Linked DNA regions of Homo sapiens: region 1 is linked to region 2. The links come from fine-mapping of genetic effects on gene expression. A gene starts in region 2. The other region holds a variant in brackets. All regions are shown on one strand. Distances are between the middles of the regions.

Evidence for each region. PIP is the estimated chance that this variant, and not a neighbour inherited with it, causes the effect.
Region 1: its variant is the best candidate, but not a certain one, in a credible set for the expression of WFDC8 in thyroid (GTEx, PIP 0.53).

What each region holds. Positions count from the first base shown.
Region 1 is chr20:45,551,532-45,556,915 of GRCh38, reverse strand. It overlaps WFDC8 (WAP four-disulfide core domain 8), which reads left to right. Exons shown (of 6, transcript NM_130896.3): 4 at 1,048-1,215; 5 at 3,640-3,780; 6 at 4,751-5,154. The coding sequence ends at 4,890. Among named protein-coding and RNA genes, the nearest start is that of EPPIN-WFDC6, 6.8 kb to the right of the region's middle. The variant C/T (reference allele first, on the strand shown) is at 2,873.
Region 2 is chr20:45,576,789-45,582,172 of GRCh38, reverse strand. WFDC8 (WAP four-disulfide core domain 8) reads left to right here and starts at 2,889. Exons shown (of 6, transcript NM_130896.3): 1 at 2,889-2,951. The coding sequence starts at 2,926. RefSeq lists an enhancer at 3,139-4,074.

The DNA of each region.
Region 1 (5,384 bases), 25 kb after region 2:
GGTGCAAGTTTGGCTTTGGGAAGTGTTTTTGAGCTTCTTCTTGGTCCAGCCACTAAGCTGGTCATCATTGGTTGTCGTGTAAAATCCACTTTTCATTGCACGTCACAATATGATTGAGAAATAGTTTGTTGTTGTTGCACAGAATAAGAGATGACCCTTCAAAACAATATATATTTTTTTAATTTTGCTCAGTTCATGAGGCACCCACCTATCGAGCTTTTTCACCTTTCCAATTTGCTTCAAATGCTGGATGACCATAGAATGGTTGACGTTGAGCTCTTCGGCAACTTCTTATGTAGTTATAAGAGGATCAACTTTGATGACTGCTCTCAGTTGGTCATTGTCAACTTCCAATGACCAGCCACAATGCTCCTCATCTTCAAAGCCCTCGTCTCCTTTGCAAAACTTCTTGAACCACCACTGCACTGTATATTTCTTAGCAGTTCCCGGGCTAAATGTGTTGTTGATGTTGCAAGTTGTCTCTGCTGCTTTACGACCCATTTTCAACTCAAATGAGAAAATCACTCGAATTTGCTTTTTGTCTGACATAATTTATATAGTCTAAAATAAATATAAATTAAACAGCAAATAATAAGTCATTAGCAAAAGTACAGGAAGCAAGAAATGTGCATTAAAATGATATATGATATAACCACATTTATTTAAGAATGTATTCTAATATCAAATGGCAAATTTTAACAATGCAAAAACCATAATTACTTTTGCATCAACCTAATAGTTGCTGAACAAGTCTTGCCCTACCAAAGCTCAGGACAGTGGAGAAGAAAGATCAGCTCCAAAGTACAAGATTCTTATATGCACCTTGTAATATTCTTTGCAAGGAAGGAGTGATGCTCAGAGGTGCCATACAACATAGACTATTAGTAGTAGAACTGGGACCAGAACCTATGCCTTTTTTTTTCCCCTGCCATGGCTCCTTTTATGACTTGGGTGATAACACCAGGAGTTATGAGAAATGCTAGGGAACTGACCCTGTTCTTTTATCTCTACTCTTCATATCCTTCTTTCCTTGCTTCCTGACCTCAGAACCCTGCATGCTACCTGTGAGGCATGGAAACTGTAATCATGAGGCACAGCGCTGGCATTTTGACTTTAAAAATTACCGCTGCACACCCTTCAAATACAGGGGCTGCGAAGGGAATGCCAACAACTTCTTAAATGAGGATGCCTGCAGAACGGCCTGCATGTTAATTGGTGAGACCTCTATCCTGGAAATCTGAGGGTCTAGTTTAACTAGAAATAGTATACCAATGAGGTTATAGGCTCAGGATTTGAGGTTAAAGTTCCTTGGTTCAAGACTTAGCTCTGTCATTCACTGGCTGGGAGGTCTTGGGCCAGTTGCCTGCCTTTATAAGCTTCAGTTTCCTTGTCTATAGAATGAGGTTAATAATAGTATTTACCTAATGGAGTGGCTCTGCCAAAAAATGAGATAGTGTATAGAAAATGTTAATAGATCTTGGCCAATGTGACCCGAAAGCCAGGTGTGCCCCCTTGGAAGAAGGTGTTTCCTCATCATAGTAACCTGTTGAGCATCATACTGAGGATTTGCTTAAGAATGAAGTGTAGACAGGCCAGCTCTGGAATCCCATGGAGTAAGTGTCCACACTGGAGGTGGAGAGTAGGGTGGGGTGAAGGTGAAGGCTGTGGATTCATTCCTTAGTATAATGATCATCACCAGCAATGTTGGGAAACAGTGTCCTACCAAACTTAGGAGTCAAATGACCTGAATTTAAATCTGACTTTTCCCACTTGCTGCTTTCTTCATTTCTTTGAATTTCAGTTCCCTCTTCTGTAATTCTGGAGTCACAGCAAACAGCTCGTTGAGTTGTTGGCAGGATTATATGTGATTTAAAACACAAAGACTTGATAGAGTGGTGGTCCCGTGGTGTGGGCTCACTAAACGGTAACAATTGAGATGGTGACCAGTGATCTTCACAACTGTGTGATTTATGAGGCAGCGTTGCAATTTCGACCTCAGATTCTGTGAGGCAAGCTGAAAAATGTACCATCACTACCACTTTACAGATGGGAGAACACAGTCAGAGAGGTGAAGTTAGTTGCCTGAGGACCCACAGTTGGTCAGGAGTAGAGGTGGAATTTTAATTCCATGGACCCATGGGCCTGAACGGCCAAGGCAACCCTGGGACCTGACTTGAAACTAGGACCACAAGCTTCCCTTCATGGGAAGCTCTAAGGAATCATGGTGCTGTGGACAAGAGCCTTGTCTCCTCTCCCAGGAAGACAAGGAAGAGGAGGCCAGGGAAATGGGCTTGGGCTGGTTTGTGGGAAATTTAGGTTAAGACTCAGAGGCAACCTGATAATACCTCTGAGAGTTCAACACATCATAGCCTGAGCCTGACCTGGGGAAGCCCTTGTAGAATTTGCAGTCAGATGAGTACAAGAGCATACAAAACCCCAAAGAATTGATTTAAATACCACCTATGTCCTAATGACCCACAAAGTTGTGTCTCCAGCCCTAATCTGACTCCTAAAATCCACTATCTGCTCTACATCTCCACCTGGACCTCACAAACATCTCATGTTGAACTTGCTTAAACAGAACCTCGGGCCAGGCACAGTAGCTCACACCTATAATCCTAGCGCTTTGGGAGGCTGAGGCAAGAGGATCACTTGAGCCCAGGAGTTTGAGACCAGCCTAGGCAGCATAGTGAGACCCAATTTCTACAAACAACAACAACAAAACCAAAAACAAAAACAAAAACACAACAACAAAAAAAACAGGCATGGTGTCACGTGCCTATGGTCCCAGCTACTCAGGAGGCTGGGAAGATCACTTGAGGAGGTATTCCCACCTCCTCAAAGATCACTTGAGCTGGGGAAATTGAGGCTT[C/T]GTTGAGTGACAGTGGGAAACCCTGTCTCAAAAACAGAAAAATAAGCTCAACATAAACATAAACCAGTACCTCTTACCATCACTCCCCTAACGCAAACCGGTTCTATCCATGCTTCTCATCTTGGTTGAAAAACTTCACAATCACAGTTGATGCCTCTCTTTATCAATTAACATCCATTAAGTTAGTTAGGAAATAATTTTAGTTCTACCTTGAAAGTAGATCCTAAATCTGGTAAAACCTTACCACCTCCGCAGCTGCCACCCTGATCTGAAGAGCCATCTTCTTACTTGGATTACCCCAACAGCCTCTTAAAAGGTCTCCCTGCTTCTATCCTCCTTACAATCTATTATAAACACAATAGTCACAATGACCCTTTCAAAACATGAGTCAGGCCATATCACTTCTCTACTGAGAACAGTGTGATGGATCCCCATTTCATTCTAAGTAAAACCAAATACCCTAAAATGGCTTACACTGATTTGTGTAGATTTCACATAATTATCCTCATTTTACAGAGAAGGAAACTCACCAAGTAGCAGGACTGGGACTTTACCATGGGGCTTAAGGCACCAAGCCCAGCATGCTCTCTACCATATCCCATGATATGATGAGACATTTCATTCTTCCACAGCCTACTGGAGATGGATAGGGTAGGGTGAACCAAGTTGCAGAAAGGGATACTAGCTTTGAAGAGAAGGAAAGGCTCTTTGAAGGGTGGTGGGATGGGGGTGGGGTTTTAAGAAGCTCACATCTGCTCTTATTTTAGTTAAGGATGGACAATGCCCACTCTTCCCTTTCACTGAACGTAAGGAGTGTCCACCTTCATGTCACAGTGACATCGATTGTCCCCAGACAGACAAATGTTGTGAATCCAGGTGTGGCTTTGTTTGTGCCAGGGCCTGGACAGGTAAGGATTGGGGATATACCTCCCAAATCTATTGGGCATGTGCCAAGGATGTCATGCTGTCTCCATGGAGTGGGGGGTGTCTTGAACCTCAGATGCTCCTTGGGCTCATCTTTGAGGATCTTTGGGAACCCCTTTTAATGCCCAACAAGTTATATTGACCTCTTGACCTCTGAAGACTATTGTGCTGTTCTTCAAAGCCAGTAATTCATAGCATTGCTCTCTATTCTTCCCCAAGAAAACTTATTTTTTCTGAGACTCATTCCTCAATGACTTGCAAGGTGACAATATTCACCGATTCATAAAAAATTCATAACCATGAGGTGTATTCCTAATAAGCCCTCATGTCTGCACAGAACTTCAAAGCATGCACATCATATTCATATCCTGTAAGATGGGCTGGGGAAAACATTAGTAGCAAATGATGTTGGATAGAAGCCAACTTTCCTGCCTCCTCTAAGGCAGGTGTTTACTTCCCCATGTAGTCCCAGGGATTGTCCAGGTGTGGCTTTAAGGTTCTAAGGTTCAGTATAGTGTGGTGGCAGGAGTCCAAGGCTTTTCAACCTACTTCAACTTTTCTACTGGCTTTCTATGTGGCATTGGGCAACTCATTTCCCTCTAAATACGCCTCAATGCCTACAATTTGTAAAACAAGAAGGTTCTGTGTGCTAATACTCCTGCCACCTGTGGTACTCTGGGGTTATATAACCCAGATCCATTAATTCTGTAGGAGCAGACAGGAATCCTATCAGATGGTACAAGTCAGAGATGGTAAGACTTTTCTTGATGCTCCTCAAGTTATTAGTCGTAGAAAGTTGATACTCTGCCTCCTCCAGTCTATTGTTACTGTAGGGGGAAAGGTAAGAAGCTTAATCAGAATAAAACCTTGTTTGAGATTCCCAAGATTCCTCAAATTTGTCTCAAATTATGACCAAGTATTTCAAGGTCAAGTGTTTTCTTTTACCCCATAAAGTCAAAAAAGGTTTCTGCCCACGCAAGCCCTTGCTATGTACCAAGATTGATAAACCCAAGTGCCTGCAGGATGAGGAGTGCCCATTGGTGGAAAAGTGCTGCTCACATTGTGGACTGAAATGTATGGACCCCAGACGTTGAATAGTAAGTAGAAAATATTATCATCAAAATCATTAATTATGAGTAGCATGATAAAGAGCTGTCAGTTTTGTCTTGTATCCAACTTGCCAAATTATCTTAAGTATCACAATATTGAATGATGTTACTTTGATTTTATATATAATCCCATCATCTGAAAGTGATGATATATTTGGCTTTTTTTCAACTTCATGACTTTATTTTCTTGTCTTCTTGTATTGTGTAGAACCTCCAAAATAATAATGAAAATAAAGGCAATGGCATCCATCCTTGTCTAGTTCCTTATTTTAAAGTCAATGGCTCCTGCACTATAAAAAGATATTTGTTGTTGAATTTGGAATACATAAGTTTTATTGCACTTAAATTATTTTCTTTTTCCTTTTCTTTCTTTCTTTCTTTTTTTTTTTTTTTGTGAGACGGAGTTTTGCTCTTATTGCCCAGGCGCAATCTCGGCTCACTGCAACCTCTGCTTCCCGGGTTCAAGTGATTCTCCTGCC
Region 2 (5,384 bases):
TGGAGAGATGTGGCTTAGAAATTATTACCTTTTCTTTATATGTTCTTTGTACTGTTTCACTTATTGGGTATTTGATGTGTGTAATTTTATAATTAAAAATTCATAACTAGGACTCTTAGAAACTATTCCCAGTAAATCACCCCCCCAAAATATTGTCTAAAATACTTAAAATGCATGACTCTTTAAATCAATGAGTCAGTTGGCAAGAAAGAGGAATTCTTAAAAGCCAAAAATGATGTGAAGGTCTGACTCCAGAGAGATAAGGAAGTGCTTTAGTTAGAGGCTTCCCTGGGAGTATCTGCCAATGCCTGGTAATCTGCAGTTTGAATTTTAGTGGGCCCCTGGCAAGGGCAAGAAAAAAGAGCTAAGCCCTAAGCAATGTGAAAAGTCAGATCAGAAATCTCACTCACAAGGATCACCAAATGCTGACACCTTAATAAATGGATGAAACAGAAATAAATGGATGAAACAGAAACACACACATGCACAACTGTGGTGAAGGAACTTGCCTGTCTTGGCTTTGGCTCTGAACAAAACAGGAAAAAAGACTACTCTGGGCTGGGTGCAGTGGGTCATGCCTGTAATCCCAGCACTTTGGGAGGCAGAGGTGGGTGGATCACGAGGCCAGGAGTTCGAGACCGGCCTGACCAACATGGTGAAACCCCATCTCTACTAAAAATACAAAAAAATTAGCCAGGCGTGGTGGTGCGTGTCTGTAATCCCAGCTATTCAGGAGGCTGAGGCAGGAGAATCACTTGAACCCGGGAGAAGGAGGTTGCAGTGAGTTGAGATAGTGCCACTGCACTCCAGCCTGGGGAACAGAGCGAGACTCCATCTCAAAAAAAAAAAAAAAGACTATTCTGAGAATTTGTAACTGCAACCTTGTTTCCTTTCATAAGAGCAGAGTAGGAAAATTGGCACATGTGCATGGTCTGATAAATCTAAAGCTATGAATTTAATTCAAAATTGCATGAGTTGTTAGGGAAAAATTGAGGACAAGTTGATTCGGAAGAATTCTCCTTTAAACACAGGAATCCAAGAAATTCCACAAAGTATTGTTACATACATAAACTTCCATTAAATATGTACTCTCACAATAAAAAAAATCACACAGATCTTAAGAAAACAAGATGAAAAAAATCAAGAAAAACAACCAACAGCAGAGGTCCACAAAGACTTCAGATATTGGAGTTACTGTATTGTATTGTAGCGAGTTATTGTATTGTAGGAAAGGAACATAGAAAAAGGATTCCTGATTCTGTCTTTGGGGTAGGAAGGGCACGTGATAAAAACTTTCATTCAAAAGGTAAAAGACAAGCCAATAAGGGTTTTAGAAGATTACCCTTGATCCTGGAAGATGTTCATAATACATATAACTGAGGAAAGACATGACTCCAGTAGAAATCAGCAAGAAAAAGTCAGAAAACCCCAGAGAACAATGAGCAAAACATTTGAAAAGAAAATCAAAGAGAGGATAGCCAAGTGGTTAATAAAGATCTAAAAAGGTGCTCAACCTCATTAGTAGTCAAGAAATTTAAATTAAGTCCACAGTGATGTATTTCCATACTCGTAGCAGGATGGTAAAAATGAAAAGATTGTGACAGTTCTACATACAGCATGGTTATGGAACAATAGGAACTCTCAACTACCAATGGCAAGGCTGTGAATTGGTACAAACTCTTTGGGAAATAATTTGGTATCAGCTTGAGAAGCTGAAGATATGCATACCCTGTAACCCATCATTCCCTATGCTGAATGTATAACCTACAAGAACACCTGCCCACGTGCTCCAGCAAATGCACACAGAGTGTTCATAGCAGCTTTATTCTTTTTTTTACATGAGTAAATTGTTTAAAATTTTTTTGACATTTAAAAACATTTATTAATTCATTTAACGTAATAAACTTATTACATGTTGATATAAATAACATTTTTATTTAGAAAATCCTAGTTTTTTATTATACTTTAAGTTCTGGGATACACGTGCAGAACGTTATTACATACATGCTATGTATACACACAGCAGCTTTATTCTTAACAGCTGCAAACTATAAACAACTCAGTAGAGATGTGTGTAGTCATACAATAGATGGCATGGCAATGAAAATTGACAAAATACAGCTACACAAAACAATGTGGATGGAATTCATTAATATAATGTTGAACACAAAAAGCCAGGCACAAAAGAATACATTCCAAGTGACTCCATTGATATAGAACAGAAGCAGACAAAAACAAAAACATATTTAGGGGAATACATATGATCTTGAAAATATGAAAAAGAAAGTCACTACCATTAGCTGCCTTTGAGAGCATAGGAAGGGGTTGTGACTGGAAAAGAATGAAAAAGGAGCAGAAAGTGTTGGAAATTTTTTACTTGATTTCAGTGATAGTTTAATGAGTGGTCACTTCGTAATAGTTCGTTAGACTGAACATTAATGTTTCATGCATATTTTTATTTTTGTGGTGTTTTTCACAATACATATTTTTACAAAAAGGAAAAGTAGCTCTTCCTTGTTTTGTCTCCTTTTCTTTACTAACTGAACTAGTCAGTCCTAAAGCCATTAGATAGGCACATTTAGCAAGGTAGGCGTTTGCCCCAAGGGGAAGGGAGCCACGGCTGGCTCCGTGTGGGCATCAGAGCTGGAACAGGTCAAGGAGGGTGTCTCTGTAGGAGGGCTGCTGGCCTGGTGTGCTGGAGCCAGGGGTAGATGAGAATGCCCAGTGAAGAGGCAAGAAGCAGCATAGCATGGAGACCAGCCTGCCCATGTTGAGAAAGGCATCCCCCTGGGGCTAGAGGGGCAGACTGGCATAGAATGAGAGCCTGAGTGGGGTGAGCAGAGTGTCCAGGCAGGGGAGCAGATGAGGGAGGAGCCTTAGAGCTGGAGCAAAGTGAGGAAGCTGTCTCCATAGGGAAGAGGCCTGATGTGGACTGTCCGAACTGAAGGAGGGTGAGGAGGGTGTCTATGGGGGTGGGTAGCCAGACATGGAGGGTCTGAGCCCAAGGAGATGAGGAGGATACATAGAAGTTAGAGTGGTCGGCTGTGGGGAGTTGGGCCAAGCATAGTGAGGAGGGGTTCCACAGAACAGAGCTGTCTTGTGTCAGGAATCAGAGCCTAAGCAGGGTGAAGAGGGCATCAATGCATCCAGCGATTCTCCTGCCTTAGCCTCCCTAGTAGCTGGGACTACAGGTGTGCGCCACCACGCTCGGCTAAGTTTTGCATTTTTAGTAGAGACGGGGTTTCACCATGTTGGCCAGGCTGGTCTCGAATGCAACCTGATATGGCTGTTGGAGCCCAAGTAGGGTAAGTTGGGCATCTTTGAGTGGCCCAGTGTGGAGGGGCAGAGCCTGAGCAAGGTAAAGTTTGATATTTTAAATTAAACAAGCATATAATATGTATCTAAACATTTTCAAAAAATTAAAACAGGAGTAGTAGTGATGGGTTATATTATTATTCACAACTATTCATTCCATCTTTCCTTTAAGAGGACACTCCTGTCCATTACCTTGCAATTTTAGAACGGCCCGTGGAAGGAAGACACATTTCTGTCTCATTGACTTTGGGTTTGCTGTCAGCTGTGCTTTGCCTATTGGAGTATGAGCAGATGTAGCATATGCATAGTGAGTTTTGCACTGTGAGTTTCTGCCAGCTCCTTTGTGCTTTCTCTCTGCCAGGAGAAGGGGCCTAATCCACATAGAGGCTGCTTCTTTTGTCTTGGTCCCACAGCCTCAAGTAGAGCCCCCACTTGGAACAAAGCAGTAGACAATTTGCCTAGGAAGTCTTTTGTTGTGGCAAGCCATGGAGAGCTCAAAGTTCTTTGTACACCAAAGTAATAAAAATACAGTTGATTCCCATTACTTGGGGGTAGTTATGTTCTGTAAAGTCACTGTGAACACCGGATTAGCAAATACTGAGCCATTGCTCCTAGGGAAAATGCAAGCCTCTGACCACACATTTTCATCATTTGATCAATACATAACCTTGTTTTTATATGTGCTTCTGTCTGAAGACACATGACAGAGATGGTAATTAGAAGGTGCACACAGAAGACTTCTGGGAAGCTGGCTACTTTCTATTTTTTAATCTGTGTGGTTAATTATTAAATAAAACTCTACATACTTTATTTATTTATTTATTTTTATTTTTATTTTTTTTGTTTTGTTTGAGAGGGAATCTCTCTCTGTCCCCCAGGCTGGAGCATAGTGGTGTGATCTCGGCTCTCTGCAACCTCCACCTTCTGGGTTCAAGGGATCCTCCTGCCTTAGCCTCCTGAGTAGCTGGGACTACAGGTGTGCACCACCACTCCAGGCTAATTTTTGTATTTTTAGTAGAGACAGGGTTTCACCGTGTTGGCCAGGCTAGTCTTGAACTCCTGACCACAGGTGATCTGCCTGCCTCAGCCTCCCAAAGTGCTGGGATTACAGGCATGAGCCACCGTGCTGGCCCTGTCTTTATTTTTTAAACATGTATATAGGCCAGGCGCGGTGGCTCATGCCTGTAATCCCAGCACTTTGGGAGGCTGAGGCAGGCGGATCACTAGGTCAGGAGATTGAGACCATCCTGGCCAACACAGTGAAACCTCATCTCTACTAAAAATACAAAAAATTAGCAGGACGTGGTGGTGGGTGCCTGTAATCCCAGCTACTCGGGAGTCTGAGGCAGGAGAATCACTTGAACCCAGAAGGCGGAGGTTGCAGCGAGCCGAGATCGCACTACTGTACTCTAGCCTGGCGACAGAGTGAGACTCCATCTCAAAAAAAAAAAAAGACACCTTATGTAATATATATTATTGTTTCATTAACATTGAATTGTGGCTGAAAGCCCTGTAACTCATGCCTGAACCAAGCTTATCTGACACAAGTAATTTCTTTGTAAGGCACATTGCAGGCCTCTTGCTCTTAGGACACTTGACAGCACTTTAGTAATTCTTGGCAGCCATTTTAAACAGCAAACTCACCAACAAAAAGCACAAAAATGTGAAAAATGTGACACTAAGTAGACTGCAAAAAGGAAGCTTGTTTATAGTAGTAGAAGAGCTTAAACAAGCAGAGCGTTGCCTTGTTTGACTTCAGCTGGGAATGTGTACGTTGGGGGACTCAAATTTTTTGCCATTCTGCACATATCCCTGAATGACCACAAAAGCATCATGAGTATTGATTTTTGGGTAATAAATAAATTTCAGCAAGTAGGCAAATTGGCAAGTACAGAATCTGAATAATGAGGACTGAGAGTAGATAACTTGTAATAAAATTGTAGAAATGAATCCAAATATGTCATTAGTGCCCATAAATGTCAATTAATAGGTAATAATTTCTGGACTGGATTTTTACAATGTAGATTTACACGATTTGAAGGATAAACTTAAAACATAAGTAGAATGGT